7 linked regions of the Homo sapiens genome follow. The protein of the gene in region 4 interacts with the protein of the main gene of each other region in a pairwise test. Each region holds a gene or a part of one and is shown on either strand. Other genes may lie near its edges. The genes, in order: SEPTIN5, TTK, SMS, MAPK6, SUSD4, IDH3B and RAP1GAP.

Region 1 (3,158 bases), on a different chromosome or scaffold from region 4:
CTTCAGCTTCCGGATCTCACTGGGGACAAGACAGTCAGCTTTGGCGATGAGAGGCACGATGTTGACCTTCTCATGCAATGCCTTCATGAAACCCACATCCACTGGCCGCAGCCTGCCGAGAGCAGCCAAGGGTGGGCATAGGCACAGCCAGGGGGCCATATTGTAGGGGCTGCACTCCCGAGCCTGGCCCCAGGACAGCCACACACCCATGCCCGAAGGGGGAGATGAAGTATAGGCAGCAGTGCACTCGGTTGTCTTGGATGTTCTTTCGGTTGAGGCCGCTCTCATCACGGAAGTACTGCTCAAACTGCTGGTCCACATAGTCGGTGATGGGCTTCCAGCTGTGGGCAGGAGGGAGGTGAGGCCAGGCCTCGAGTGCTGTGGCCGCCTAGGCAAGGCCTTTCTCAGCAGGCCTCACTCACCACTCGGTGTTGTTGACAGCGTCCCCGAATCCCGGCGTGTCCACGATGGTGAGCTTCAGCTTGACTCCCTTCTCCTCAATGTCCACCGTGTGTTTTAGAATCTCTACCGTCTGGCTGATGCGCTCTACGGGGAAGGGGCCACTGGAAGGGCCTCTCCAACCCTCAGCCCCTCACCCTTGGCAGCCAGGACCCTCGTCCTCATCCATCTTGGTGCCTTGGCCCTACCCCCAGGGGACCCACACCGCGAGAACAGAACAGTGGGAGCTGGACCTGAAAGGGAGTCCTTGGAGAGGTCCCATGGAAGGGGACTGGGGATCAGTGCCAGGGCCTCCTGGGGGCCACTCACCCTCAGCACTGAGCAGCTTCCGGTCCTTGTACAAGTCTGTCAGGAAGAGGCTGTGGACCAGTGTGGACTTCCCCAGGCCTGACTCACCTGCACACAGGTACAGAGAAGGAGCTGCGTTAGGTCTGGGGCTCCAACGACAGAGCTTGGCTGGCCAGTGACCCCAGCCACTCCCCCGAGGAGCCTGGCCCACTCACCAGCCACCATGAGTGTGAAGTCAAAGCCTTTCTTCACCGACTTGCGGTGCACCTGGTTGGGCAGTGTGGCGAAGCCCACGTACTGCTTGTCAATGTCCTGGGGACAGGATGGAACAGGGTAGGGACACAAAGGTTTCTCCAGAAGCCCAATACCCTGTCTCTTACCAAATGCGGTATGAGGAGACAGCAGAGGGTACGGTTCCCAGGGTGGGGCATTTCGTTGGCAAAAATAAGGGGAGGGCCCGTGGGCAAAAGCCTGGAGATAAGAAGGCAGGCGAGGTGGTGGCAGGAGAAGGCACCCCTGGCCCCAATCCCAGGGAGGGCTCTGCAGGGACCGACACTGTATTTATTCCGTGGGGAGATGTCAGGCCGCAGCAGGCACAGGCGATGTCCTCCCTCCTCGGGCAGAGGGCAGCAGGATTGGGACCCCTGGGACACACTCAAGGCCCTCCATAAGCCGGAGAAGCTGGGGGCCTCGACACTCACCCCTCCGGAGAGTGCCAGGGGGCGGGAGGCCCCACCTGGCCCGGATCCAGCCGCGGGGGCGGCGGCAGCGGCGGTGGCGGAGCAGCGCCTATTTATAGACCGCGGCGCCGAGCCTCCCCCGCCCGCGCGCCCAGGCGCCCAGCCCCCGCAGACCCTTGGGGCCCCTGGAGGGGTCCCACGGCCGCATTCTCCGCCGCGTTTTGGAGTCGCGTGAGGTGAGGCCTGGACAGGGCACGTCGCCCCACCGTGGGGCCGCGGACCTGCGAGGCCGCTGCGGAGGGAAGGGCTGAGCCTAGGCGCTGGCGGGCCGTGGCGCGCGGGGACGGGGACCCCATGCCGAGTCCCGGAGCCCGCGGGGTCACAGACCCACGTTCCGCCCTCTCCACACACGCACCTTGAGCCGCCTCTGGGCCTGGGTCCGCGGCGACAGCAGCTGCTCCACCAGGCGGTCCTGGGGCGCTGCCAGCGAGTCCATCGCGGCGACCCCCCCAGGCCCGGGGGCACGCTCGGACCCCAGGCCCGGTCAGGCCGCCAGAGCCCGGCGACAGCGAGGGACCTTGGCGCGGCTCTGCCTTAGGCTGCGTTGTCCACCCCGTTTTGCGGACGCGGGAAGTGAGGCCTGGACAGGGCACGTCGCCTACCCGGGGGATCGTCGACCCCCGAGGCCGACCGAGCCATCCCCCTGACTGGGCGAACTGGCCCCAAGCTGTGGCGGCGTCGCAGTCCGGGCAGGCCCCGCTCCCGCACCCGAGCCAGAGGCGGGGCGTCGCAGGCGCCCGCGGAGCGCGCGGCGGGGGGCGGCAGAGACGGCCCCGCCCGCCGTCGCCGGGAAACGGTCGCCTGGAAATTGGGCCGCGGGCGGAGCCACCCGAAAGCGGCTGCGGAGGGCAGGGCTGAGCCGAGGCGCGGTCGGGCCATGGCTCGCGTGGACCGGGAGCCCTGCCGCGCCCCCGGGGCCTCAGTCCGGGCTCCAGGACAGCAGGAGGGGACGACCGGGTCCTGCACGCGGGCCGGGGCGGGCCGGGAGTCGGTAGCCACCGCGCGTCCCGCCCCCAAGAGGTGCTGCGCGGCTTCCGCCCGCCAGAGGGCGCCGGAGGCCGCTCCCGGGACCCACGCGCAACAGCGCGGGTACCCGCCCAGTTCAGGGCCCGCCGTCTTCTCGCAGACTTGCCCGAAAACCTCCCGGCGGCGTCTCGACGCCCCAAGTGCCCACAGACACGCCGCGCCCTGCACCCCTCCCCAGCCCTGCTTGGGGCTGACCTCCCCCGTGCGTGCGTGCGTGCGTGCGCGCGTTTGTGTGTGCGCGTCCGTGCGGGTGTGTGTGTGTAATGTGTGTGTGTGTAATGCCTGCGTGTGTGCGCGTGTATACATGCGTGTATGCGTGTGTGTGTACGTGTGTGCATGCATTGGGTATGTGCGTGTGCGCGGGTGTGTGCATGTGTGTTTGGTGGACTCTTTCCCAAGACATTCGGGGGACCGGAGGAGGGCAGAGCCCACCTTTTCTGAAGTCCAGCCTGCCTGTCCCCTAGGAGGCTTAGGGTGGACAGAAGGGAAGGGAAGGGAAAGGAAGGGTGCAGGCTGCCGGAGTACTGGAGGTCCCTGCAAAACTTGGAAGCCCCCGCCAGCCTGCTGAATAAACGCCGGCCACCCATGCGCTGCCCTGCAGCCCTCAGGTGGCCCTGCCCTCAGAGACAGGGGTGGGGGTGGGAT
Region 2 (3,500 bases), on a different chromosome or scaffold from region 4:
TTTTTCTCAGTATTAACGTAGTCTGTCATCCTTATCTCCAAATACTTGGATTATAGCAGGTCTAAGACTTTGGGGTTCAGGCATCCTGAAAATATGAGATGTTTACTTTATTCATTCTCCTAATCATTTTGTATTGTATGCCCTGTGTGAGAAGTTGGTTTTTTTGTTTGTTTTTTACTGTTAGGCCTACCTTCTGGGTTGGTTTTTACTTGTCCTTGGTTCTTTTTAGGGTTTTTCTCTGCCTTTACCTTATCCTATATATTTTTTTGTTCTTAATAACTGTTATCCTAGTTAATTGTAATTTATCTCCTCCTCATCTCTCTCTCTTAAATTATCTTAAAAGATAATTCACCAGTGATCAAGATCAGGGCTATAGGGGTGGAGATGTCAGGAGCATTAGGGTCTTACTGTCTGGCAGTATAATTTGTGATGCTCTCTAGTGGGCAGTGAATCACAGTGGTTAAGAGGATAGATTCTGAAGCCAGACTGTCTGGCTTCAATTCTAACTGTCACTTAGGCTGTGTGACCTTGTACAAGTTACTTAAACTCTCATTGCCTTAGCTTCCTTGCCTTATAGTGGGGATGATGATAATACTTCAGCATTGATGTGAAGATTAAATGATGCAGTACTGTATAAACAATGAACTTAGAACAGTGCCTGGCACATAACAAGTGCTATGTAAATATTTGCAGAATATATAAAAAAATTATTGAATTGGGTTCACTAATTGAAGGAATAAATACAGCTTGACCTGTAGACTGTGAATTTTTTGGTCCTTAGAATGTTTTGCATTGTTTAATATTACAGTGGATTTTTATTTTAAAGGCATTGTTCACAGTGATCTTAAACCAGCTAACTTTCTGATAGTTGATGGAATGCTAAAGCTAATTGATTTTGGGATTGCAAACCAAATGCAACCAGATACAACAAGTGTTGTTAAAGATTCTCAGGTAAGACTTAATGTTGGTTCTCTCACAGTAGAGTTCAATTCTTTTTTTACCTGTGAAGTATTATATTGCAAATGAGTGTTATATTTTTAATCACCTCATTCTTCAAAGGATTTGAAGTCTTTTAATAAGAATAGATTTAAAAATATAAACCATGATCATTGTAATGTAGAATAGAAAGTCAAGATCAAATAGTAATATCTCCAGCAATTGTGAATGGTTTTCCTATAGCTGAAGTAGAGAAACAGTAATACCTTCCTTGGAAATCACTTGGTCGTGATCAAAAATTGACCTGAAAATTTGGCTCAGAGTTTCCTTGTAGCAAAGAGGGAGTTGCAGTTATATGTTTTTCACTGTCTATGAGGTAAGATCATTTTTATTCTTCTAGAGAAGCCGACCTTTTCCTATCACTGAAATTGGAAAAAAAATTCTTAAGTGGGCCTTCATATTGTAAATGCCATAAGTATTATAAGCAACATTTTTATAATAGATATTGCAACAGCAAACTAAAAGACGTTGTTCTATAAAAACTAAAGCAATGGCACCAAAGTATATCTAAAAGATATTCTTGCTTGGAACCAAGATGATATGTTCCATGTTTACAGATTTTTGATGTGAGTCCACCTTAATCCCAGGAGTAAAATAGACTTTGTTAGGAGGAATGATGGACGACATGCCCTATTTGACAGTCATGTCTCTTTGTATCAAAAGTATGGCAGATCAATGAGTTGTAAATCAGCTTGACAATATCTTCCATGTCAAGGCCCTAAAGTAGATATATTCTGTGTTTAAAGCAAACCATGTATTTTAGAAGAAAATGAGCTCATTGTAAGGTTGGCATATCCTACTGTAGAAACTCAGAGGACTACTGTGAGACAAAGCTAGATGGTATTTTTGTTTGTATATTGGTGGGCTTATTTAAAAAATATATTTTTTTAAAGTTGAGTATGTTACAACAAGAAACGAATGGTAAGTCCCTCAATGGCCTCAAAGTTTATGGCCATTAATAGGATTTTAGCCTGGAGAGTTTTTAGGGCAGGCTTTACTAGTTGCCCAGTATAATCATAGAAAAAGCACAGCATTCTGAAAGGAGTCACTTTGCTGATTATGAACCCAACTCGTTTTGCTGCAGTTGTGAAGAAATTTGATATATATATCTTAACGTTGTCAGCAGTTATTTGAAATTTGCAAGGATATCATTGAAATTTATAATTACCCAAGTTTCCAAGGATCTGGCATTTGTATTTTTAAGAATCTAAAACTTAAAGTATAATAATAATAATAATAATAATAATAATAATCTCAAAAAAAAATCTAAAGCAGAATTAAATATTTTCATTGATTTGTGTTTTCTCTGACTTGGCATATAGGTTGGCACAGTTAATTATATGCCACCAGAAGCAATCAAAGATATGTCTTCCTCCAGAGAGAATGGGAAATCTAAGTCAAAGGTACTGAAAAGATTATTTACATCACAATTATCTGGCAACAGTAGGGAATGCACTATTTTCTGAATAAACTTACCAGATAACAATTTCTTTAAGTTCTAAAACTTTTTAGGCCATTACAGAGACATTGCTGGTTTTTTTCGTTTCCAATTCTTACTATTTTTCACCACTTATTCGTTTGTGAATTCTACATTTCCAAGTACAGCTGGAGAATGTAATTGTTTTCTGGCCTGCCACTGGCTACTTTTCCACTGACTTTATCTCGCTACCTCGATGAGTTTGCGTTAGCCTCATGGGTGCCCTTTGTCCGGGGCTCCTTTTGCCTACCTTGATGCCTTGGGCTCCCAGGCTAACCCTTCTTTCTCTACATCAGTGTAACCAAGTGGGTGCAAGCACACATTGTCCCAGGGACCTGTATTCATTCAAGTCATAGATCTGCCTCTTCATTAACAACTGTCTTTGGCCAAGTGACTTGCCTAGTTTCCCTGTCTCTAAATTGTGCCTATAGACAGTGCCTATTGTAAAATAAATTGAGGATTAAATGGGAAAGAATATATAAAGTACTTAGTACATTTATCCAGCTCAGAATCATTGCTTGATAAATGTGTTTTTATTTACTAAATTTTATTTTCCTCCTTAGAAAATCTGGCTTGTAAGTGTTTTTCAAATAACTGGCATACAATTTTGCCAAATGTTTTCATAAAATTCTTTTTATATTTGTTTAGCCTCCACTCTTCTAAAACTTAAATTTCTTGTGTTTTTATTAGACTTTCTGTGGTTTTGTTCTTCTTAAATAAGCAGTTCCTGACTTCATTTATCAACTCTATTTTCATTTGCTTTACAACTTGAGTACTTGTGATAACCAGAAACTTTTCTCTATGATTAACCATATTTATGGTTTATCATTTAATGCCCATGACAATGTACTTTTATAATTTCTATATCAGAGTTGAGAAAACAGACACATAGCATTACCAGTTAGTAACACATCTTCAAGATATGTTAAAGGTAATATTAATTTCATATAACTAATTATTTACTTGAAATAGCTGAAATGATTGGAATTGTGTAATTGGCTTAGATATAACTATTCTATTTAAAAGA
Region 3 (3,500 bases), on a different chromosome or scaffold from region 4:
TACCTCCTGGTAGCCCGTTATAGGGCTACCAGCGAGATGCCCTTTAATGCTAGGTTGAGCACTTCATCAGGGTAATGGCATTTACATCCTGTTAAGATCCTTCTTTCTTTGCTAGTCTTTAAAAAAACCATAGAGTTACAATGTAGGAAAGAGCTCTTCACCTTAGCCAAGGCACTATTGACACAATTGAGAACAGGCACTGTTTAGTTTCAGTGGGTTTGCCTGTAGTGCAGTAATTGCCGATAGGTGGCTGGCTGTCAAGGAGAGGGTAGTCTTCCTCCCCTGGAAGTGAGTGACTTTGTCGTTCATCCAATGCCATGGGTGGCTCACTCTCACCTCACTCCCCACCATCAGCCAGGGGTGGAAGAGGCTTCCTCCAAGTCCTGTTCGCCTGCTCTCTAGCAGTTGTCCTGATTGGTGCTTCACATTTTACAATTTACAAGAAAAACCCTCTAGAATGCCTCACATTCTGAAAGCTGAATTTGTTCACATGGAAGGTGAAGAAGTGGTTAAATGAAGAGTTGTCAGGATGACATGAATTTATGGGAGTTTGCCTTTTCAATCTCGGTGTTCTTTATAGATGTTAGTATTCCCTCATAGAAAGCCTTGTTAACTTGTAACAGGTTTAGACTGTACTCTTGGAAGCTGGTGAGCAGGGAAGGGAAAGAGACTCATAAGAGTACGTCAGGCCGCATATCCCAGCATTTTACATGTCTACAGCTGTACATCATGGCGTTTTAATGTTGAACACTACTGTGTTTGAGAACACATGACTCACGCAGTTGTGTTATGTATGCAGTGAGCTCTCGTTTTCTTTGTGTTTGGGTTAGACTTGCCAAGCCCCTTTTCCAGGTCTTTTTTTTCCTGTCATTTAGTGTCCTCTGCTGGTACCTTCTAGTACATTCATCCTGTGAAAAATACCGGGTATTTACAAAAGAATGAATGAAAAAATCATCATTTTGCAGCCTCTGTAGTAGTAACTGGTTCAGGCCAGAATCTTCTGCATGCTAAAACCACTGGTAAAGGTTTGTTGGGGGGTGAGGACTTCTACCTAGTTTCAGAGCACCACCCCACAGCCTGCTTAGTAATTTCAGAGGGTGAAAAAGGTACCTTTGCAAATGGAGAGAGCCCATGAATACCACTTTAACCAAGTGATCACAGACTTAGCATCACCAATAATAGGACAGATACACATCTTGTGTTCCCGATGTGATGCCTGTGTAATATATGTCAACCTGATTCTAACCATGAAGAGTGAGAGATTATCAGGTAAACCCACGAGTCATTTTTCAGCAGAATAGCTGGTCTGTACTTGGAGATATCAGTGTCATGAAACATACCAGTAAAAAAAAAATTATACGTTACATGAGGATAAAAAAGAAAAAAAAAACAGGGAAATGCAGTGTATGAGCCTTTATTCAAGAGCAGAACATCTATAAAGGATATAACTGGGGACACTTGAAGATGGACTCTGTACTAGATAACCATATCATACCCATGTGAACTGGTGTAAATGTGGTAATGTCCATGTAGTTATGTAGATAGTCTTAAGAGACAGATGCTGCTGGAGCATTTGAAATATGAAGTGTGCAGTGGCCATCTTCTCCTTCAGCTTTTTGTTAGAGAAAATCTAAAGCATGACAGGATTTTTTAAAAAGTGAACTGTGTACAATAGTTGTCAACATTTGGTGGTGGCCGTGATTATATAAAACTAAAAGCCCAAGCTTTGGATTCGTTTTGTGCTTGTCAAAAGTCGGCAGTCATGTGGCTTTCTTTTGCACACTCTTCATCCTAGCTCCACTTGTAAGGCAGTGTTCTAGTAAGGTACATTTCTGTTTTTCTCTTTTTCCAGATTACCACCCATAGTGCGAGGAGGAGCCATCGACAGATACTGGCCCACCGCCGACGGGCGCCTGGTTGAATATGACATAGATGAAGTGGTATATGACGAAGATTCACCTTATCAAAATATAAAAATTCTACACTCGAAGCAGTTTGGAAATATTCTCATCCTTAGTGGGGATGTTAGTAAGTATTCCATCCCTGCCCCGATCACGTAACAAAGTGGTGATGTGTTGAATGATGGTGTTTTCCTGACAATTACTACTGTCGTGGATTTGTTTGAGTTTGTTTTTGACACTGCTGGTTTTTGAGATGCACATTTATGTCATATTAACCTGTGGATTGTCTGGGCTTTCACATAAACTTTGTCTTGACATTGCTTCCTTAGTGATGAGTATTTGGATTGTATTTCAAAAGAAAATGCATTTGCATATTTAAAAAAAAAAACCTTTTTGTTACAGAACAATTCAAACCTAAGTAGACAAACTAGTGTGATGAACCCACATGTACTTACCATCGAGTGTGAACAATTACCACCTCCTAGCCAGTCTTATTTTACCTAAACCCCAGTCCACTTTGTCCCTCTCATATTATTTTGAAGCAGCTCACAGACATCATATTATTTCATTTGTAAAGATGTAATTGCTTTTAGTTATTCGGTATATTGACACATTTTTAAGGCTGGATTTTCTTCCCACTGACTAATGTCCATTTGTATTAGGTGTCAGATGATCAGGGTTGATGAAAAAGTCCTCAATGGAAAAAAAGCTTGCAAATTGTTCACAGTTTTAAAAAATTGAAAATGAAAAATTTACATTTTGGTCTAGATCCCAGCTCTTCAGTGTGGTGGGGCCAGGTGGTTTGTGTGTTAAGGTAGACTCACCATTTGGATCTGTTTCTCCTCCCTAGATTTGGCAGAGAGTGATTTGGCATATACCCGGGCCATCATGGGCAGTGGCAAAGAAGATTACACTGGCAAAGATGTACTCATTCTGGGAGGTGGAGACGGAGGCATATTGTGTGAAATAGTCAAACTAAAACCAAAGATGGTCACTATGGTAGAGATATCCTTTGTTGTATAAGAGAACAAGTTCAGTGGGCTTCTTTTGTTTCCTTCCTTCAGTGTCTCACAACTCAAATTAATGTTACCACAGACTAGAGGCAAATGTGTTACCTAGACTGCCTTGAACAGACAATTTAGTAACAGTACCCTTTTATGTGGCCATCAACAAAGAAATAATCAGCTGGGCACAGTGGCTCATGCCTGTAATCCTAGCACTTTGGGAGGCCGAGGCGGGTGGATCACCTGAGGTCAGGAGTTCAAGACCAGCCTGATCGACATGGCGAAACCCTACCTCTACTAAAATTACAAAAATTAGCCAGGCATGGTGGCGGGCACCTGTAATCCCAGCTACTCGGGAGGCTGAGACAGGAGAATTGCTTGAACCCTAGGTGGCAGAGGTTGCAGTAAGCCAAGATTGCGCAACTTCACTCCAGCCTGGGTGACAGTAAGACTCTGTCTCAAAAACAAACAAATAATCTACCTAGTTGAGGATTAAAGAGCAAAGGACTTTGATACTGTGTCTGCTGCCTAGCAGTTTCCAAAATGGCTTCTCTAAAGCCATCTCATGAGGAGAAAAGAAGATTAAGTTCCTTTT
Region 4 (4,131 bases):
ATCTTTTTCCCCCTCTCAATCTTATTTTAAGCCACCTTGCTAAACGTTGGCTGTTTTAAAATCAGTCAAAAGATTTATCTTATTACCAAGTTTCAACTTAGAACTGTACATTCAGCTTATCTTTAAAAAAAAACCATGAAAAATAGTGACTAATACCTATTTCAAATTGTCTTTATTAAAACAGAAAATTCACATAAATCACAAAGCACAATATATAATTATGTTTTAATAATTCTGAGTGAAACTTTCATATTCAGAGCCATATCTGATTAAATATTAAATATAAAGATAACTTTCACATAACCAATAAAAACATAAGGTCAATTTCTACCGACACCATAAAAGTACTATCTGTCCTTTATAAACAACCTGTAACAAATCTCTCTCAGCAGTAGCCAAAAAACTGCTAGTATCAAACATTTAATTTCAGCACCTGACCAGAAATTGGTTTTACCTTTCCTCTCAGCAAATGTTACACAATTCCACCTGTAGGGTATATGATATCCTTTTAAAATGCAATTTAAGAAGCCATTACTTTTTTAGAGAAACTGCTGTTCCTCTTCAGAAAAAATGAGAGAGAATTTCAATGTGGACAGGAACATTTTAGCCTATCATTTAGAAAAAAATACAGTGTATTTAAAAAAAAAAAAAAAAAAAGCCACGTAGCAGTCCGTGGGCAGCATGAGTCATCATCCAACTCAAAACTTGCAGCAGCACTTGTAAGCTTCCTCCTACCCGACCCCCATCCCCTTCAGCAAAGTACCCTGAGTCAGCAAACCTTACTATTTTGTCAGTTATGATTCTCACGATGCTTTAAATGAATTTATGTAAAGCACTGCAACACTTTTAGTGCTAACATTAGTCTTTAGAATGTGTGCATTTTTTTATTACAAAATTAACTGACTTCAAATCACTCTTCTCTGGATTTTTTAATAACAGAAAGTAGCCAACGACTACTTCTAATCCTCTTTTGCAAATAAATGAATTCCAGAATATCCTCATATACGAAGTTTTTTCTAAAATAGTCTCCATTTTCCAGTGTTTTCTTCTCAACAGTAATACCTAGGTGATCAAATATGTTCTGCTCAAATCTGGCATATTTTCTAGATTAACTGCAATTACTGAATTCAGGACATCAATGAATAATTTTACAAGCTTAAGGCAATTCTTAATAAATGATGTAACATATGTGAAATGACTTTACAATCCCTGGCACATAGCAAACACTTCATAAACATGTTTGAACAACTACTATCTAAAGACAAAGTTCCTTTCACCCAATTCAAAATTATTTTTTAAACATTAAAATCTGATATTTCTATGAAGAAATTCCTGATTTCAGGGCCAGGCCCTGTTTGGACCCTACATTCTTCTGGTCAGATCATTCTTTCCATCTCAGTTTTCCAGCGTTAAAGAGGGAGGACATGTGCAATTGGAACTGTAAGAGACAGGCTAGAAGAATCAGCCATCAGAAAATTACTCTGAAGCTGCTTGCTCTTCATTGTATGGCGTGTTAATTTTTCCCCTTGACAAATCATCTGTATCCGTTAAAAAAAAAAAAGTCATTACTGAGACTGCATCTTTAGCAATGAACACGAATTCTGCCGTTAATACAAGTAGGCTTCTAATTCCAACTCACCAGTCCCTTTCACTGGACCTTTTCCAATGAACAAGCAAAAGAAAAAATAAAACAGGAAAGGAATCAAGAAGCTCCCGCTGCACAGAGATCCCCCTAACACCTAAACCGGTTGGGTCCTACACTCGCCAAGAAACAAAAGGATGCCAAAACACCTTTACTTTTCGACACAACTCACAAGGCGGACTAAAATGCACAGCAAAGTGACAAGGCCCTTTTTGGTGAACCGACAAAACAAGCTTTCATTTGGGCACTTTTACAGACCACCACTTAAGGTCCCGAAAGAAGCTAAGGAAAGACTGTAGGGCCGAGGGAGGAAATTAGGAATTTCGTCTCCGAGTTTTCAGTACCTCATTCATGGCAAGACTCAAAACTTGGGCGGACTTCAGGGCTCTGAGACGAGCCGGGTGAGCGCTGCGCGCTACGCCACTGGAGACTTTGCCCGGCCGGAGTCAGCTGAGGCCGAGTCACCGGGTGGGATGGGGGAGGAGACGCGGGAGCATTTCGAAAGGCAGCGTGCCAGTAAGGCGAGACTCCACGCCACCTCATGTTCCCCGGGCCGCCGCCCCTCGCTCGCCCGCCCTCCGGTCCGGTCCGGCTGGGTTTCGAACCCGCGGAGCCAGGCGCAGGCGGCGGGACGGCAGCAGGCGTGCGGGGCCAGGGAGCGGGCGCGGCCTGGCAGGGCGACCGGCGAGGGGCGTGCCGGGTGGGAGGGGCGCGCTGGCCGCCTGGCCGGCCCCACGCGGGGACCCCAGCCCGCCGCCCGCCCGCCCGCGCGGGGACGCGCCGGCCAGGCCCGAGCGGGCGGGCAGGCGGGCGAGCAGGGGGCGGGCGGCAGACCGAACAAAAACGCCTTTGTTGAGCGGCAGCCGCCGGAGGGTCACACACAATGGAGGAGGGAGCCGGCTCCGCCGTCGCCGCCGCCGCCGCCGCCGCCGGGCCCGCCGCGGCGCCCTCCCGAGCCGCCCCGCCGGCGCACCCCGCACACGTACACACACACACTCACGGGACTTCTCCGACTCATCGAGAGAGTGCGGGGCTCGCGGACTGCCCCCAGTGTCGGCTCAGGTCTCCGGCTGTGCTGGCGGCAGCGGCGTCTCCGAGGCTCTCGCTTTGCCGCAGTCGCCGCCATGTAACCCCGACCCGCGAGAGAGGGCGAGGAAGAGGGGGCGGGGCTTCGCGGTGCCACGCCCCCTCACGTCACAGGCTCACTCCACGGGTTCTCCCGCCCCCGCCCTGCCCAGCGCACCCGCACGCGCCGGAATTTCCAGCGCCCGTGACTGGGCTGCGCGCGCCGCGGAGGCGGTGGGAAAGGCACGCGGCTCGTCCGGCGTCTCCTGGGGGCTTTGCCTGCGGGCGGGCAGGGAGGAAGACAGCTGGGGCCGTTTGCTCTACTACCTGCCCTGGCATTAAGGGAACAAAGTGACCAAACCCAGTGCCAGCGTTTACTAAGCACCTACTACGTGCAAGGCACTGGGCAATCCGAGAGGAAGAGGCCTCAGTCTCCAGGAAGGGTGGACCTTAAGATGGATTGGCTGGAAGGCGACAGCCCGAGCACAAGACAGACGCGTTAGAGGCCAATACTAAGGTCATTCATTCTGCCAGAGTATGGAGGAAGGCTTTCAGGAGTGGTCGCCAAGGTGGCCTTTCAGCTGGATCCCGGAGGAGCGGATATAACCAGGAGGTGGGGAGGGTGTTTCTGTGAGCAAAGACTGGGAGGCCAGAGTACCTGGCTTGTTGCAGGAACTGGGATAGGACAATTTGAATTTGGGAAGGGATGCACTATGAAACGTAGAAAGGTGGATGGGTGCCTTCTTGGGCCCACTTGGCTAAAAGCAAACTTACATTACTTATCATGGCTTATTGAGTCCAAGGAGCCTTTTCAGTGTTTATGTGAAATTTAAGTATTTATGAAATTAGAGACGCAGGTCAGCATATTTTTTCAATGACTTCATCACCATCTTGCTGAGAACCAGACATAGAATAGCCCTTCTAGTCATTATTATGGGCATCTTCAAGAAAGAGGCAAAGACCACTTCAAAAAGATCACAAAGGGCCAGGCGTGGTGGTTCACGCCTGTAATCCTAGCACTTTGGGAGGCCGAGACGGGCAGATCACCTGAGGCCAGGAGTTCGAGACCAGCATGGCCAACATGGTGAAAGCCCCGTCTCCACTAAAAATACAAAAAGTAGCCGGGTGTGGTGGCTCACACCTGTAATCCCAGCTACTCGGGAGGCTGAGGCAGGAGAATAGCTTGAACCCCGCGGGGGGTTGCAGTGAGCCGAGATCGCGCCAGGACACTCCAGCCTGGGCGAAAGGGCGAAACTCTGTCTCAAAAAAAAAAATCACAGAGTAATGAAGTTAAGTGGTTGGGGTGAGCTTGAATGCTTTATATTTTTTAATATTTAAAACAACGTCAGCTGAGTACCAGGTGTGAAGAAGAGGTAATGAGTGAAAAAAACCAAGAGAAAGGGGAGACTTGTTCCAACCGCAGA
Region 5 (3,500 bases), on a different chromosome or scaffold from region 4:
GGAAAAATCCAACCTCACACTTCTTTTGAAGGTCGGATATGTTTACAGAAACAATTTCTGTTTTGGAAAATAAATGTATGGTTCAATTTGGGGCTGGGGGAACAATGACAATTGTCAACTAGAGAGAGGCTCATGATTCTGAGATAAATGTTAAGTGGAGTCTTTTTAAAATGCTGAAACAAAACATTACCTTGGTTACTGTCTCCATCATGAGATGTATTTGAACACATTCTGACCATGTGTAAAAACCACCAGATTTACCCAATGCCATGGATCCATGTGCCACACCATGAATACAAACACTGATGATATGTTACCAGAAGACAGCACAGAGTTCATGAGCTCTACTTTGTGAAGAAATTTCCAGAAAGCAGAGTCTGCCCATCTTTCCTTTCCTTTCTCACTGCAACTGCCACATCCTGCTTTCGTCTTGCTTCGAGTAGAGTTGTCTGGATGAAGGAAGATTCTCCAAATGTCACACAAGGACCTTTCCTTTGGGAGCTGGTCCCTTGCTGAGGGTGCAGGAGGCTCTGCTGTTCTTCCAGCATCTCAACACAAACTTTCTGCAGAGGCTGACCCATCCAAATTTGGAGTCCAGAGACAGTTTGAAGCAGATGTTAGAAGCAAATTTACATGATGTGACATGCTTTCAGAGGGGGCGGGGAGTACTTGCCAGTCAATGGGATGCGTGATGATTCGGTGGGATGTGCGTGGAATTGTCCCATGTTCCACAGCACGATACACATTTAACACCCCTCATCCAAGACCACGCGAGGGCTTCCCTGCTGCCCCGGTTCCCCATGGGTCTTGGTGAATCCTCAAATCTCATTTAAAAGCACTGCCATTGCAGTTTGTCAGCCTCACTGTGGAGCCTGAGATGCATAATGTGAACTGTGGTCCCCATGTAGACAAGTTAGACATTTTGCCCCCAGGCTCTATCCTTCTGTGACCTCACTCCAAGATACAAGGTCCTTTCCCCGAAGGAGCAGGAGAGTCATCTGGATCTTGACCCATATTAGGGATCTTCTTCCATTAGAGGAATCTCTGTAAAAGAAGAGACGGTTATTAGCTTAACATAACCAGAAAACACCATGACGATCTGGAATTATATGCCTCATTAAAATATCTACAGTTTCTCAAATCAGTGAGGAGAAGAAAATGTTAAGTTCCACATACCAGTTAATAACCAAATAAATCAACCTCCTATACAACATCTTTCTGTAACAATTGTTCTTTGCCAGGAAACAATTATGATCTTATTTCCAGTTCATAAAAAATAAAATGTTACATTTTAACCATAGGCCTTAATGGTCACACAAGCCAGAAAGTTGCAAATTCAAGTACAGAAAGGCAGCGTGGTTTGCAGAAAAGGAACACTGTGGTGGCCCAGGAGACCTCTGTTTCCACGTCATTACTGCCATTTACTCTCAATATAAGCCAAATTAGTGCTCTCATTTGCAAAGTGGCACTGGGGCTCCCCTTCTGTAGGAAACAGAGACCTAATCAATCTGACACATTTTCCTTATTTTACCATGAATCTACCCTTCCTTGTGACAGGTACACATGCATCTTTTACTTCACATCTGGTAAAAATAACTTCTATGTACACAGAACTCTGGGGCTAGAACACACTGCTGGGCCCTAGTGCGTGCCTCTGGATCCTTCTTCCTGGCATGTATGTGCCATCCTGTCCCTAAGCCCCACTTCCAGGAGTCCTATCTAATTAAGGAATAAAGAAGAAATACATTCCAGATCATACAGACACCACAAAAATGAAGCACCGGCCACTGCTGCCTTTCTACTCTGGATGGCTCGATGCCTTTTGGTGCCTCTTGAAATTTCCATTAATGGGCTCATTACTTGCAAGATGATGATCATTCCCTACAATAATTGGCCTTGCCCAAGGCCTCTACATGGAGAGAGAGCATGAAGCAATTTAAGCTGAGTGAGAGGTAAACAGATTGATTCGACTCTGTGCTGGGGGGTGGAGCGTGCGTAGCAAGGAGCTGGCTTGAAGATGCTGGTGCGGAGGTGTTTGCAGGTGTGGCTTGGGCCCTGGGGCAAGCACTTACCATCTGCAATGTCGATGCCTGGGCTGGTGGATGCCACCTCCTCTGCCGTGCTGGCAATTATGTCAGGGTTGTCCGAAGCAGGGTGGGTGCTCTCTTGGCACCTGGGAGGTGAATACAGACTTTGGAGCAGCTCAGAAGAGCCTGAGACGCTGTCACAGGTTTCTGACTCCCCTGGGCCTGTGTCCGTGTCCCCTGAGCCGGGGTATGCTGGGGGGCTCTGGTCGTCCACGGGTAAGGGGCAGCCCTGGCCCACAGAGGCCATGTACCCGGGGCCTAAGGCACTCAAGCCGCCACTCACAGCTTCGTCATAGGACGGGAGCATGACGGGCACGCCGTCTACCACCACAAAGTCAGGGTCACTGCTGGAACTCCGGGGAGGCCCCCTGTGTAAAGGAAAGAAGTGCCAACATGTGAGAGCCATGCCACTCTGGGGATGAGGCCACCCATACTCCCTCCTGCACTCGGGGTCCTCAGGACCCACGATGGGCAGCAGAGTCCCGTATGGAGGATAATATGGAAGAACCAGCCTCCTTTCAGGGACTCCTCTGGAAGATGATGCTGCCATCCCGGCTGCCCATGCTCCGGAGAGAGGAGGTTTTCTTTTTGTCACTCTCTCGTGTCCTCCTGCCTCTGGGCCTTACTATCTCCTCATGCTTTTTCCCTTGCTCCTTTGACCTGTGGGCTTTGGCCTTCTGGCCATAAGCTCATGGAGCAAGGGACAACATAACCCTTTCTAACAGAGCAGCCCAGTGCACCTCTGAAGTGTCCTGTAGGATGGGATTGAAAGTGGGATAGCACTGTTAAAAGTACAGAAAATAGGTCAGGTGTGGTGGCTCACACCTGCAATCCCAGCACTTTGGGAGGTTTTGCTTGAGCCCAGGAGTTTGAGACCAGCCTGGGCAACATAGTGAAACCCTGCCTATACAAAAAATAAAAATGTTAGCCACATGTGGTGGCACGTGCCTGTAGCCCTAGCTATTCAAGAGGCTGAGGCAGGAGGATCCCTGGAGCCCAGGAGTTTGAGGCTGCAGTGAGCCATGATCGCACCACTGCACTCCAGCCTGGGTAACAGAGCGAGATGTTGTCTCATAAACAAACAAACAAACAAACAAAAAACAGTAACTGTGGACCCTCAGTGCCCAGAGGGACTAGCTGGCCCTATGCTCATCATGTTTCTTTGTTGTTTTCTGCATTCAGTATAAAAATCATTACATTTTAGTCTAGATTTAAAAAAAGAAAAAGAAAAAGGAAAGAAGGAAAAAAAAGGAAAGCTGTGAGCACTATGTCACTACCCCGTTCAAGCTACGCAGGCTCACCGCCACCTCCTGACCCCCCGCCACTCTTCTAAGCAAGGCCCGGGTTGCTGGTGTGAGGGCTCCAGGAGCGGCGGCAAAGTGAGTCTGCATGTCTGCAGGGCTCCCTCACGTG
Region 6 (4,107 bases), on a different chromosome or scaffold from region 4:
CAAACTCCTGACCTCAAGTGATCCACCCGCCCCGGCCTTAATGCTTTATTTTTAGTCAACATATTTAATTTATGTTGAAACTTCAAAACGGAGAACAGATTTTTTCTATTTATCAAAAAAGAGCCTGGGTTTAACAACAAGTTGAAAAACAATGCTAGCAGATCTGTGATCTTTTTATCTGTGCCTTCTCCTTATTTGACATTTTTTAACCCAACACCTACTGATGAATATCAATTATATGTCAGGCAATAAGGATAACAACTAAAACCATACAACTCCTGCCCTTGAGAAGCAAACGGTACACTGGGAAAGACAGAAAATATGAAAGACATGATAAGTACCATGGGAAACTTGCATAGCAACACAAAGAGGAAATCCTCTCCAGTAATATCAGGATACAGCACAGAAGAGCTGGCACTTCAGCCATGCCTTGAGCCCCAGAACCTATGTATGTGACCTTATTTGGGAAAAGAGGCTTTGCAGATGTAATTAAGTTAAGGATCTTGAGAAAAAATCGTCCCATCCAGGGCTAAATATTTGAGGAGAAAAATGATACCGAGACAGAGAGGGAAGAAAACCACAGATATTGGAGTGATGCATCTACAAGTCAAAAAACAGCAAGAGCCACCAGAAGAGGCAAGAAAGGTTTCTCCCCTAAACCTTCAGAGGGAGCAGGGCCCTGCCAACACCTTAATTTCAGACTGATGGCCTCCAGCACTGTGAGAGAATACATTTCTGTTAATGATAAGCCACCAGGTTCATGGTAGTGTGTTACGGCAGCTATGGGAAACTAATACAGTGAATGAGTGAGAAGGACTCTAACAGGTAGCACCAAAGAAAGAACGTTCTGGGTGGAGGGAACAATATAAGTCAGGTAGTACATATTTGGAATCTAACACACAATCTAGTGTGATTGAAGCACAGAACAAGAGTTGTGGAACCAAGGCAGAAAATTAAGGGCCAACTTATAAAGTACTGACTTTCCTATGGTAAGGCTGGGCCTGGAAAATCAGGCTGTTCTTTCCAAGAAGAGATATGGAAGATGAACTATAGGGGCAGAACTAGAAGCCAAAAAAATCAAATGAGGAGATTAAAGCGCGGAAGACAAAAGAAAAGGGGCAGCTAGGCACGGTGGCTCACGCCTATAATCGCAGCAGTTTGGGATGCAGAGGTGGGTGGATCACTTGAGGTCAAGAGTTCGAGACCAGCCTGGCCAACATGGTAAAACCCTCTCTCTACTAAAAATACAAAAATTAGCCTGGGCATGGTGGCTCACACTTGTAATCCCAGCACTGTGGGAGGCCAAGGCGGGCAGATCACAAGGTCAGGAGTTCGAGACCAGCCTGACCAACATGGTGAAACCCCATCTCTACTAAAAATACAAAAATTAGCCAGGCATGGTGGCACGCTCCTGTAATACCAGCCAGCTACTCAGGAGGCTGAGGCAGGAGAATCACTTGAACCCGGGAGGCAGAGGTTGCAGTGAGCTGAGATGGCAACATTGCACTCCAGCCTGGGCGACAGAGCGAGACTCTGTCTTAAAACAAAACAAACACAAAAATTAGCTGGGTGTGGTGGTGCACACCTGTAGTCGCAGCTACTCAGGAGGCTGAGGCAGGAGAATTGCTTGAACCAGGGACGGGGAGGTTGCAGTGAGCCGAGATCGCGCCACTGCACTCCAGCCTGGGCGACAGAGCAAGAAGAAACAAAGAGGAAGGAAGGGAGGGGAAAAAAAAAAAAAGAAAAGGGGCAGCTAAAAGTGGTATTCCAGAAATGCAATGAATAAGATTTGATGACAGTTGATGTAGCCTCAGGACAGACTCAGAACCCCTGGAACTTTTCTGCATAGACAGCTGACATGATCTCTCAACTCCTGGGCTCCCAATGGGAAGGAACAAATGTCCAAATACCAATGGTGGTTGCCCTGGAGTTAATATAATTGCATAGCATGTGGGGAGAAGGGCTTAATAAACATTTGGTCATTTGATTTTAAATGGCACATGGACAAGTGGCAAGAGGGCACACATACCAATGATGGCCACTTTGTTCTCCTTCATGGAACTCAGCACCTGCTCCAGCTTCTCCTCAGATGCCATATTCTGCACCTCACTCAGGTGGTGCTCCTGGAACTCCACTGGGACAGCGGCAGCCTTCAGAGACAGGTTCCCAAAACATCACAGTCAAGGCCAAGTCCTTTCCAACACACTACTGTCCTCTACTGTCTGATCCCCGAGGCCACTCACCTTGAACACCTCCTTGACGGCGTGCATCAGCTCAGGCCCCACACCGTCTCCCGGAAGCATGGTCACGGGAAAGGAGCCCTCCACCCTCACGTCCTCGGCCTCAATTGGGGGAAGAGGGGAGAAGTAAAGATAGAGCTGGGGCGGGAGCACGGATCCTGGGAGTAGAGAAGTAGGGAGACCCGGGAGGGGTGGGGAAAAGCCAGGGGAGGGAGCAGCGAGGAAGGGACAGGGTCGTAAGAGAGACCCCAGCCAGATTCGTGCATACCTGGCTCCGCGATGCAGCGTGCGCCGCGGCCGAGGTACTCAGACCTCTCCATGCCCCAGGGTTCCCGGCGGAGACCAGCGCCTGCAACAGGGACACACAAGCCTGTAAGGTCAGCTTTGAGACATCCAGACCCCGAACACTACAGTTGACTTTGCCCTGTTTAGGAAACCCTAGGACAAACTCTCCGCTCCTTCGCCCGCCCCTGCCCGACATGTCCCGGGGCCTCACTCGGGTCAGCCAGCGGACTCCGCTCAATGCCGCCATGTTTCCCGCAGGAAGTCGCGTGGGAAGTGACGCCTGAAGCTGGCGCGGCCCCGTACCCCGACTTCCGGCCTGTACTGAGTTCCTGGTATTTCTCTCTCTGCGCCAACCAGCACTGCTTGCTCACGCCTGTTTCTCCTTTTCCTTGCCGGTGGGGAGGTCATGGGATGCGCAAGCACTTTGTCTCTTGCTTTGTTTTCAGTCGCCATATTTAATCTACGTCGAAACTTCAAAATAACATTAGGGGGAAAAATGTAGCGTCATGTTTATCAGACGAGGACCTGAGCTTAACAAGCGATTGAGAGAAAATCCTTGGGAAGCTGTTAAAATTTGTGTGTCAATGCGTTTGTTATTCTTTTAACCAGTACTCACTGAATACCTGTATGTCAGGCTCTCGAGGAATACAGTACAGACATGGGAGGTGTGTGTCGGGTTTCTCCGCCAGTCTCCGAGAGTGCCCAGGACCTCTGTATTACCCGTCGCCTCGTAGTTTTTTCTTACAGGGTTTTGTTCTTTGCTCTGACAGTTATTTCCCTAATAGTGTGTCCCGGACTTGAACTCCCCAGGACAGGCCCATAACTAGTGTCAGAAATGAGTTCAAGCGTGTAAGTGTGACTAAAGGGAATTTCAGACTGATCCTTAAAGTAACAATCATAAAAACTAAAAAAAGCCTGGACAACATAGGGAGACCTCGACTCTACAAAAAATTTAAAAATTAGCCAGGCGTGGTGACACACCTGTAGTCCCAGCTACTTAGGAGGCTGAGGTGGGAGGATCACTTAAGCCCGGGAGGTGGAAGCCGTAGTGAGCCGTGATGGCACCACTGCACTCCAGCCTGGGAGACGGGGCGAGACCCGTCTCAAAACAATTACAGTCACGATTTTTTTTTTTTTTTTTTTGAGACAGAGTCTCGCTCTGTCGCCCAGGCTGGAGTGCGGTGGTGCGATCTCGGCTCACTGCAAGCTCCGCCTCCTGGGTTCACCCCATTCTCCTGCCTCAGCCTCCCGAGTAGCGCCCGCCATCACACCTGGCTAATTTTTTTTTTTTTTTTTTTTTTTTTTTGTATTTTTAGTGGAGACGGGGTTTCACCGTGGTCTCGATCTCCTGACGTCGTGATCCGCCCGCCTCGGCCTCCCAAAGTGCTGGGATTACAGGCGTGAGCCACCAAGCCCGGCCTCCAGTCACGATTTTAGGTGTGTACAATTGACACACCTAAAGACAAACTGGTACAGGAAGATTTGCCTCACCCGCTCTTCTGGAAGTATGGTTTTGGATCACCTATCCAGATGGACCAGAGCTCTTGTTAAAAGTGCAGGCTTGTGAGTCATACTTCATTTG
Region 7 (3,500 bases), on a different chromosome or scaffold from region 4:
TCCTGGCCTCCCATTTCCCCAGGTAAAGCACAATATCCTTGGCGTGGTGTTCAAAAACAGCAGCGGTTAGCGACACTAACATCATCGGGTGCACGTTCACTCTGCACCGGGCACTGCTCTACGTGCCTTTACCTGAATTATCTTATCGCTATGATTATTATACCCATCTTCCAGATGAGATGACACCAGGCACAGAGGGGACAGGCACACAGCCCAGGGTCACTCAGCACAGGTGGGAGGGCAGGGGTTGAGGTCCAGGCAACTCCACAGTCTACTCTCTTAATCCCACAAGGTTTTCATGCTCAGGGCCTCTATGCCTCCTGCCTGGAGTCTCAGTCCTCTCAAATCCCGAAAAGCAAATGTGCCTTTAAAAAATCAGCCTAGGGCTCTCGCTCCAGGAGTCCTTCCCTGATTCCTCCTCCCAAGGTGAGAATGACCCTCCCCACTCTGGCTCCTGCATACTGCGTCTCCCTGGTCCCTGCCACCCTTTCCTGCCTCTCTGTTCACCTACCCGGCTCTTTAGCCTGGGCTGAGTCCTCTTGATTCCCACAGAGCCCAACACAGAGGCAGCTCAGCCAACGGACACCAAATGCAGGGACAGTTTCCTCACTGGCCTCTCTGCTTCCATCCCACCCCACTCCAGCCTCTTTGTACAGCAACCGAAGTCAGCTTCTTAAAGCATCGCCCTCGTAATTAAAATCCTCCCAAGGTTCCCTGTCACACTTAGGATAAAAGTCAAAGCTCTTAGGCTGGGCGCAGTGGCTCACGCCTGTAATCCCAGCACTTTGGGAGGCTGAGGCGGGCGGATCACGAGATCGGGAGATCAAGACCATCCTGGCTAACACGGTGAAACCCCGTATCTACTAAAAATACAAAAATTAGATGGGCATGGTGGCGGGCACCTGTAGTCCCAGCTACTTGGGGGGCTGAGGCAGGAGAATGGCGTGAACCCGGGAGGTGGAGCTTGCAGTGAGCCGAGATTGTGCCACTGCACTCCAGCCTGGGAGACAGAGCAAGACTCTGTCTCAAAAAAAAAAAAAAAGTCAAAGCTCTTGTACAGCCTGCTAAGCTATAAGCCAGTGTCTGCCCACCTCTCCAACCTCCTTCCCGCCACCACCCAGCACAATGTCACAATGTCTGTCCAGGCCCAGCCCCTCAGATACTCTTTTTTTTTTTTTTAAGCAATGGAGTCTTGCTATGATGTCCAGGCTAGAGTGCAGTGGCTATTCACAGGCATGATCATAGCTCACTGCAGCCTCCAACTCCTGGGCTAAAATCATCCTCCTGCTTCAGCCTCCCAGGTAGGTGGACTCCAGGCATACGTCACCACTCCCAGCCACCCTTCTTTCTGTCCCTGGAGTGTGCCCCAGGCCTCTGCACTGGCCGAGCTCCTCTGCCATGCCAGTCCTAGCAGGGCTGGTTCAGTTCCCAATTCAAATGTCACCCCATGGAGGTGTCTCCCCGAGGACCCATCTAAAACACCTCTGCCCCCAGTCCCTCTTCATCCCCCCAACCCTGCTTCGGGTTCCTCCTATCACCATGATCCGGCAACAGCCTATGAGGCCGCGTTCTGATGGACCTGCGGCCGTGAGGCGGGGACCTATGCGCAGGGCACCTCTGTGCTCCAGAGCCGGGCGCGGGGCTGGGCGTGCACAAAGTGCTCGCTGGGTATATGTCAAAGGAGGGCCCCAGAGAATGCCCAGGTCCCCCTGACACCCTGCTGTGGCACAGTCAAGGCTCCTGTGCTGTCCCGGGCCCAGGCAGGGGAGGGGAAGGACGGTTCACCACTCCCAAGCCCCCAAGCCCCACGTGCCCTGAGCCCCAACCTGTTCTTGGTCGTGGGCATCTCTGGGGAGCTCTGAGTGGATGAGTTCTCCGACTTGGGCTCCTGTGAGACGTGCCCGCTGTCTGGGGTCTTCTGACCAGCCGGAGGGCTCTCCCTGCGGGGCACACGGGGGCAGCGGGGGGATTCAGCACCAGGCCTGGCATCAGGCGTAGCGTGAGGCCCAGGCGGTGAGGGGAGTCACGGTGCCTCCTGCCTCATACCCACGCCCCTATACTCAGGGCCAGCCCTGGAGCAGTCTTGTGGGCTCCCTGGCTAGCCTGGCCAGTGATGGGGTTGGCACTGATGGGGCTATATGGGACAGGATGGGACTCCTCCCAGGTCCTCTCCACAGGAGCAGGTATAGCTGTCCCATTATGGATAAGGAACCTGCCCAGGGACGCACAGCTAGGACGTGGCAGTGCCAAGACCTGAACCCAGGACTCACAGCATGCGGAGCTCTGGCAGCAGCAAGGACAATGCCCACTCCCGTCCTGGAGCCCTCTCAGGGGACCTGGCCCTGGCCTCACACGCAGTGCCCTGAGTCCCCACAGCAGCCCCATGCCATGGGTTGTGTTCTTGTCCCTTTTCCAGGTTGGGACAGTAAGGCTCAGAGGAGGTCAGTGACTCGCCCAAGGTCACACATGGTTAATATCGGGGAGGCAGCCGGGAGCTAGCCTCTGATGTCCGGGGGCAGCCCTGCTGCTGGCCTGGGCTCACTGCCCTCATGCTGCCCACACTCATGGACCCCCCAGGCCCATCTGTGGCCACCCTGAAAACCAGCACTAGGCCCTCCCACATGCGCTGGGGCCGTGGGAAGAGCACGGATGCTGGCCCTAGACAGATCAGGGCTCAGATCCTAGCTCTGCCCATCACTGGCTGTGTGATCTGGGCAAGCCCCTTGACTCCTCTGACCTACCGCTTCTTGATCTGCATGTGGCACGTTAGGTGACGTGCTGGCCCTGGTGCCCGACACGCAGCAGGGACTTGACCACACAGCTGTCACTAGTGGGGATGGAGAGGCAGAGGGGCGGGCACTCCCTTCTGCCTGCCTTGCTTTGCCACCGAATGGGGCTCAGGGATGGGGATGCAGGGGAATGGGGCACTGTCCCCCACTCACCCACCTCTTCTCCTGCACCTCCTGTATGTTCTCGATGCCAATGGCGCTGCTGCGGCGGGAGCCGAACGGGCCCGACTTCTTCCTCGTGGGGCTCTTCCCAGGGACAATCAGTGACTGTGGGGAGAGGCCCCAACTCAGTGCCACCTTACCTGGGAGCCCCAGTGCCCCCCCCACATCCCCTCTGGGGATCCTGCTGCCCCAGGCCCTGAAGCAGAGTTGATGAGCAAGAAAGAACGAGAGAAGATATCCATTCCCAGAGACAGCCTCCCAGTTTACGAAAGGGAAACAGTCCCCAGGAGGGCAAGGGGCTCTCCCGAGCTCACACGGCAGGACTGCACGTCAATACTGGCCCAGGATTAGGACAGCATCCTGAGGGGGCTAGGGTGGGAGGAGGCCGAGTCCTCAGAATGGCTACCGCTCCCCGCCCCCCAGGGCTCTGTGGGATCTGCAGCCTAAGGGCAGTGGTCAGAGGGCAGTGTAGCAACCCAAGTCCCACCCCGTGCCAGCTAGGGCCCCTCCCCGGAACCTCCAAATTGGCTGGGGGAGGTTCTGGCCCAG

The links.
Region 1: the proteins of MAPK6 (region 4) and SEPTIN5 interact in a two-hybrid assay, tested with the Homo sapiens proteins (one large-scale study listed by BioGRID and IntAct).
Region 2: the proteins of MAPK6 (region 4) and TTK interact in a two-hybrid assay, tested with the Homo sapiens proteins (one large-scale study listed by BioGRID and IntAct).
Region 3: the proteins of MAPK6 (region 4) and SMS interact in a two-hybrid assay, tested with the Homo sapiens proteins (one large-scale study listed by BioGRID and IntAct).
Region 5: the proteins of MAPK6 (region 4) and SUSD4 interact in a two-hybrid assay, tested with the Homo sapiens proteins (one large-scale study listed by IntAct).
Region 6: the proteins of MAPK6 (region 4) and IDH3B interact in a two-hybrid assay, tested with the Homo sapiens proteins (one large-scale study listed by BioGRID and IntAct).
Region 7: the proteins of MAPK6 (region 4) and RAP1GAP interact in a two-hybrid assay, tested with the Homo sapiens proteins (one large-scale study listed by BioGRID and IntAct).

The regions. Positions count from the first base shown.
Region 1 is NC_000022.11:19,717,503-19,720,660, reverse strand, and holds part of SEPTIN5 (septin-5), read right to left. Parts: exon of another isoform or gene 1,924-3,158; coding exon of another isoform or gene 1,843-1,923; intron 1,060-1,842; coding exon 963-1,059; intron 856-962; coding exon 769-855; intron 547-768; coding exon 423-546; intron 342-422; coding exon 207-341; intron 113-206; coding exon 1-112. UniProt on the Homo sapiens protein: Filament-forming cytoskeletal GTPase. May play a role in cytokinesis. May play a role in platelet secretion.
Region 2 is NC_000006.12:80,035,649-80,039,148, forward strand, and holds part of TTK (dual specificity protein kinase TTK), read left to right. Parts: intron 1-826; coding exon 827-951; intron 952-2,318; coding exon 2,319-2,399; intron 2,400-3,500.
Region 3 is NC_000023.11:21,975,209-21,978,708, forward strand, and holds part of SMS (spermine synthase), read left to right. Parts: intron 1-1,852; coding exon 1,853-2,028; intron 2,029-2,751; coding exon 2,752-2,906; intron 2,907-3,500. UniProt on the Homo sapiens protein: Catalyzes the production of spermine from spermidine and decarboxylated S-adenosylmethionine (dcSAM).
Region 4 is NC_000015.10:52,017,888-52,022,018, reverse strand, and holds the start of MAPK6 (mitogen-activated protein kinase 6), read right to left. Parts: upstream 2,801-4,131; 5' UTR 2,643-2,800; exon of another isoform or gene 455-2,642; intron 1-454. UniProt on the Homo sapiens protein: Atypical MAPK protein. Phosphorylates microtubule-associated protein 2 (MAP2) and MAPKAPK5.
Region 5 is NC_000001.11:223,221,177-223,224,676, forward strand, and holds part of SUSD4 (sushi domain-containing protein 4 isoform a precursor), read right to left. Parts: intron 2,456-3,500; coding exon 2,073-2,455; intron 1,045-2,072; coding exon 1,016-1,044; 3' UTR 1-1,015. UniProt on the Homo sapiens protein: Acts as a complement inhibitor by disrupting the formation of the classical C3 convertase.
Region 6 is NC_000020.11:2,661,417-2,665,523, forward strand, and holds the start of IDH3B (isocitrate dehydrogenase [NAD] subunit beta, mitochondrial isoform a precursor), read right to left. Parts: upstream 2,801-4,107; 5' UTR 2,773-2,800; coding exon 2,737-2,772; intron 2,590-2,736; coding exon 2,509-2,589; intron 2,343-2,508; coding exon 2,244-2,342; intron 2,151-2,243; coding exon 2,030-2,150; intron 1-2,029. UniProt on the Homo sapiens protein: Plays a structural role to facilitate the assembly and ensure the full activity of the enzyme catalyzing the decarboxylation of isocitrate (ICT) into alpha-ketoglutarate.
Region 7 is NC_000001.11:21,599,858-21,603,357, forward strand, and holds part of RAP1GAP (rap1 GTPase-activating protein 1), read right to left. Parts: intron 3,057-3,500; coding exon 2,947-3,056; intron 1,983-2,946; coding exon of another isoform or gene 1,941-1,982; coding exon 1,827-1,940; intron 1-1,826. UniProt on the Homo sapiens protein: GTPase activator for the nuclear Ras-related regulatory protein RAP-1A (KREV-1), converting it to the putatively inactive GDP-bound state.